2 separate regions of the Homo sapiens genome follow, and region 2 is linked to region 1. Evidence: fine-mapped expression QTL. A gene starts in region 1. The other region holds a variant in brackets. All regions are shown on one strand. Distances are between the middles of the regions.

Region 1 (2,924 bases):
AGGTGGGTGGATTGCCTGAGGTCAGGAGTTCGAGACCAGCCTGACCAATATGGTGAAACTCTGTCTCTATTAAAAATGCAAAAATTAGCTAGGCTTGGTGGCATACACCTGTAGTCCCAGCTACTCGGGAGGATGAGGCAGGAGAATTGCTTGAACCCAGGAGGTGGAGGTTGCAGTGAGCCGAGATCATGCCACTGCACTCCAGCCTGGGTGACAGAGTGACACTCCGACACTCCATCTCAAAAAAAAAAAAAAAAAAGATCTAGTAAGGGAAAGAGATTTTCTATAGAATGTAAGTTTTCCCCAACAAGAGACAGCTTTGCGAGGCCATTTCAAAATAGTCAAATAAATATATTTTGGGGTAACATATTTTTATTTCTTTCAGGTCCCACTATGTGTCACGTGATGTTATTCCAGAGTCAGGTTGGAATTTTCTTATTGCTACAGTATATTTTACCAGTCTTACGATCTCCGTTTTAATGTTAATGCTGGTCAGTTGTGTCTAACCTCCAACGGGAGGAAGGTATAATGAGGCATATCCAACCGCCCACCCCTTCCCATCAGGGCCTGAACTCATTTTTCAGGGTTTTTTTGAGATTACCTTGGCCAAGACAGAGGTCCATTCCTTTCAGGGGTGGGTTGGTGATGGTGGTGCTTAGAATTTTATTTTTGGTTTTTGTATTAGTCTCTTCTCACACTGCTAGAAAGAACCACCTGAGGCTGGGTAACTTATAAAGAAAAGAGGTTTCATTAGCTCACAGTTCCACAGGCTGTACAGGAGGTATGGCTCCAGAGGCCTCAGGAAACTTACAATCATGGTGGAAGAGGAAACAAGCACGTCTTACCGTGGTGCAGGAGAGAGAGAGAAAGAGAGAGAGTGTGAAGGGGGAAGTGCTACACTCTTATAAACAAACATCTTCTGAGAACTCCATCATGGGAATGGCAAGGGGGAAGTCGGCCCCATGATTCAGTGACCTCTCACCAGGCCCCTCCTTCAACACAAGGGGGCTATTATTCCATATGAGATTTGGGTGGGGACACAGAGCCAAACCACATCAGTTTTCACGTGTATCCCAACAAACTTAAACATCAGCAAAGTATGTGCAAACCAGCATCCCTATATCTATTCTTGTCTCAACTGCACCTGCATACATCCTGCATCTTGGACTCTCAAGGCCCTAACGTAATGGCAGAGTATTAACTCTACACTTAAATGACTGTTCCCCTAAAGTAGGGGTAGGAAGAAATCAGATCTAGCTTTCTTTCCCAAATCAGAATGCTTTCCACTTTCATGAAATAAACATACTTCTAGGAGATGTCTCCTTTTATTTATACAAACATACACACCGAACTGGAACGTAATTTGAAGTTGGGAGGTGGAAAACTAAAGGTCAAAAAGGGAAGAAAGCAAAAACGTCCCTTGCACACTTCAGCCCGCAGACCCCAAGGAGGGGCGCGAGGTCCTCAGAACCGGAAAGGCTAGCACTGGATGGGTCCCCGCAGCCCCGCGCCGCTGCGCCGCAGCCTCCGGAAGACAGGGGACGCTGTGGCGCCGGGCGGGGCGCCCTCCGCCGCTCTCTCTAGCAGGCGGGGCGGCGAAGCGGGGCGGGGCGTCTCGGGCGAGGAGAGGAGGTGACCCCGCGAAAGGTAAGCGGCGGCTTCGGTGGTGTTGAGTGGCTGGGCGCCGGCCTGGAGGGGCCAGGGCGGCCGCACCATCACGCTCCCGTCTCTGCCCTTCCCAGCTGCCCTGCCGGTCTCCCTCCCAGGGAGGGAGCGTCCTCTCGGATAGCCCAAATCTTTGCCTCTCCGTGGACTCCCTGTACCCGCACCCCAAGTCGGTGAAGCTCTCTGGCCCCACAGAGCCCATTTCCCGTACTCACCTTGCGGGCTCCAGTTTGTTCGGTGCTTCATCCATGGACACCCCCACCCCGAGAACTCTCTCGTTTCCTGCAGTTTCTTAGTGTCTTGGCTCACCAGACTCATAGGGGAACATGGTGGTGTTTTGAGGAGACGCCGCTTTTCTTTTGTCATAGTGCGGACACTCGTGCTTTTTCAGCCCTGCAACACAATGTGTAGAACTTAACGGAATGAAGTTTTCTTTTGGAGGCTTCCAATGCGTCTGTCTTTGAGTAAGCCTTCGGCACCGAACAGTAGTCCATGACATTGGGGGAAGCCAGATGAGACTCAGATTGTCAGTACTCAGGCTGTCGCCAGCAAAGCCTTTCCCCTTTTTTCAGAGACAGTACTACATCCAAGAGGTGGAAAGATACTTTTGTTTTGTTTTGTTTATTTATTTATTTGTTATTATTATAAGTTTTAGGGTACATGTGCACAATGTGCAGGTTAGTTACATATGTATACATGTGCCATGCTGGTGCGATGCACCCACCAACTGGACATCTAACATTAGGTATATCTCCCAATGCTATCCCTCCCCCCTCCCCCCACCCCACAACAGACCTCAGAGTGTGATGTTCCCCTTCCTGTGTCCATGTGTTCCCATTGTTCAATTCCCACCTATGAGTGAGAATATGTGATGTTTGCTTTTTTGTTCTTGCGATAGTTTACTGAGAATGATGATTTCCAATTTCATCCATGTCCCTACAAAGGACATGAACTCATCATTTTTTATGGCTGCATAGTATTACATGGTGTATATGTGCCACATTTTCTTAATCCAGTCTATCATTGTTGGACATTTGGGTTGGTTCCAGGTCTTTGCTATTGTGAATAATGCCGCAATAAACATACGTGTGCTTGTGTCTTTACAGCAGCATGATTTATAGTCCTTTGGGTATATACCCAGTAATGGGATGGCTGGGTCAAATGGTATTTCTAGTTCTAGATCCCTGAGGAATCGCCACACTGACTTCCACAATGGTTGTACTGGTTTACAGGCCACCAACAGTGTAAAAGTGTTCCTG
Region 2 (2,924 bases), 60 kb before region 1:
AATGAAAAAGATGAAATGGATGAACTAACAGAATTGTTTATTACAAAATTAATAAATGAAGATAGCACAAGTGTAGAGACCCAAGCTAATACTTCTTCAAATGTAAGTAATGATTTTCAGGAAGATAACCTCTGCCAGTCAGAAAGACAAAAAGCAAGTAATTTGAAGAGAGTTAATAAGGAAAAAAATGTCTCACAAAATAAAAAAAGGAAAGTTGAAAAAGCTGAACCAGCATCAGCAGCTGAGTTAAGTAGCGTGCGTAAAGAAGAAGAAACTGCTGTTGCCATTCAAACCATTGAGGAGCATCCTGCATCTTTTGACTGGAGCTCTTTTAAGCCAATGGGATTTGAAGTATCATTTCTGAAGTTTCTTGAGGAGTCTGCAGTGAAGCAGAAGAAAAATACTGACAAAGACCATCCGAATACTGGAAACAAAAAAGGATCCCATTCAAATTCAAGAAAAAATATTGATAAGACTGCTGTGACTAGTGGAAATCATGTATGTCCTTGTAAAGAAAGCGAAACGTTTGTACAGTTTGCCAATCCATCACAGCTTCAGTGCAGTGATAATGTAAAAATTGTTTTAGACAAGAATCTTAAAGATTGCACTGAGCTTGTCTTAAAGCAACTTCAGGAAATGAAACCTACCGTCAGTCTGAAAAAACTTGAAGTACATTCAAATGATCCAGATATGTCTGTTATGAAAGATATCAGTATAGGTAAAGCCACAGGCAGAGGTCAGTACTGATAATTAATGTAGTATAAATACATCATTTACCATTTTATTTTAAATAGGAAGCCATCAAGCATGCTAGAATTGTGAAACTTTCATTATATTTTTTTGTTGTTGACATGAATTAACCTGGCCAAAAACAAAAAAGAAAAAAAAAACATGACATTTGTCATGTAAAACTTTTTTTTATCCCTATGGGACTTGAGGAACAGAATCAGTACTTCAGTTATTGTAAATAGTGAGCTAAACCTCAAATTTCTATCACCCAGTTGCCCTTTTCATGAACTAAACAATTATCTGTGTGATTGGTATGTTTCACCAGGTCACTGCTCATGTATAACAGTACTCTTTATTTGTAGATACCTTTTTTGTATATATTTATTATTGTAAATCATGTGCTGCCACCAGCAGTCTGTAAGTCTAAACTATTAAATGACACATTTATATTTGGAATTTTAATTTTTAACTAAGCGATCAAGTTTTTTAAATTGTTCTTTTATTGTTTTAAATTAAGAACTTTTTGAACTAAAACCAGAAACTCTGCCATAGTTCATTGATTTTTACATGAAACATTTATTTACAAGATGATATCAAGATTACTTTTCACAAAATAGGCACATTATATCAACACTTTGCTCTGCTTTGTAAATTTGCCATCCAGGATTTTGGGGTGGTATTCATGTGAAATTAAAGCAGATTCTCTAGCAGTTTCCTATAGCTACA[G/GT]TTTTTTTTTTTCATTGCTTCTAATTGGATATAGTTACTATGAGTCCATGAAATACAATGGAAATGTGAATAAAGAATTTACTACATTGAAGATTTTAAACATTTGGTATTAAAAAAAAATCCTTTGTGAATGTGATAGAAAACTAGTAGTGTGGAGCAGTGTAAATATTTGAGGTGGTGATTTGTGAAGTAGCCCAGTATTGCCTTAAATAAAATCACATTTCATTTCTTGTTTTATACATGTGATCTTATAAAGATTTTTTGTTTTGTTTTGTTTTCCATTTTCTGAGATTTATAGATTGGTGTATAGCTTTAAACTGTATAAAGTTTTGTGGAAAGATTTTTTTAAACATTTTTATAAATCTTAAAATTGATATCATCAAAGTGAGCCCATCTTGTGTTTATAAAATACAAGAGTCCTTAACATTTATAATTACATAGATAAAACACTTTCTATAAGGAAGTTGGATGTTTTGATTTTACTGTTTATAGATGTTAGATTGTACAGATTTGTCTGTATTTCTCACCATATCTAATGATACTTTTTTCATTAGATTGGTCTTCAAGAACAGTATTAGTTATAATTATTTTGGTTATTCAGTATATAGTTAGCTCTTACAGTTTAGCTTTATTCACCATATTTATACTGTGGATTCACAGCGAGAGGTAGAGGTTATTCCAGGAGAGTTGATGACCTTCATTTAAAGTCCAACTAAAATCAGTAGTAGAAACATAAGAAAACATCTTTGCAATATTTACTTTTGTTTCTGTTTGCCGTAAATAGTAACATTGTTTTTTTTTATTTTGTGTTTGTTATAAAACAGTTGCATTCACAATATTATTGGCCTGAGATATTGATGATATTGTGATGGTATGAAAATGTGTACATTCCCTGTGCAACATCAGATTTGCAGGAAAAATGAAGCACTTACTGAAATCGCTGGTACTCTGAATAAATAAGCATGGTCAAGGAGTGAACTATTTTCTTTTGGAAATTTCTTTTTAATTTTTATTATTAAAGTATTTTATTTTTAGGGCCTTTTGGGTTTTATTGAATAGTTCATTTCACCTGTTTAAGACTTACTACCAATAAGCATAAAACCTGACACGTTAAAATCCCTGCCCTTTGGTGAGCCCACTGTTATTTATTAAAATAAAAGTTATTTTATGGGTGATTAATACATGGGTTTTCTTTTTCCTAAATTAACAATAATTTAAATAACTGAGTAATTTTAATATTAAATTTTTGTTAACAACTGAATGTTTCCATACAGTTTTCTTAGAAATTGACCTAGCTCTTAAAGGTGGGCACTTGGCAAAACTGCCCTATATAGCACAGTAGCAAGTAGGTTTATTTCTGATCATTGTAACTATGAGCCACTGTTAAGTGAAAATGCCAATGTATTGGGGCTTTTCTTTTGCTCATTAGCTTAAGAAAATTTATAACTAGACATTTCTAATTGTTTTAC

Evidence for each region. PIP is the estimated chance that this variant, and not a neighbour inherited with it, causes the effect.
Region 2: its variant is fine-mapped to the expression of SMIM8 in prefrontal cortex (BrainSeq, PIP 0.95).

Annotation. Positions count from the first base shown.
Region 1 is chr6:87,320,986-87,323,909 of GRCh38, forward strand. SMIM8 (small integral membrane protein 8) reads left to right here and starts at 1,603. Exons shown (of 4, transcript NM_001042493.3): 1 at 1,603-1,647. GJB7 (gap junction protein beta 7) reads right to left here. Exons shown (of 3, transcript NM_198568.3): 2 at 1,881-2,058. RefSeq lists a silencer at 1,425-1,714.
Region 2 is chr6:87,261,055-87,263,978 of GRCh38, forward strand. It overlaps ZNF292 (zinc finger protein 292), which reads left to right. Exons shown (of 8, transcript NM_015021.3): 8 at 1-2,924. The coding sequence ends at 747. Among named protein-coding and RNA genes, the nearest start is that of SMIM8, 60 kb to the right of the region's middle. The variant G/GT (reference allele first, on the strand shown) is at 1,456.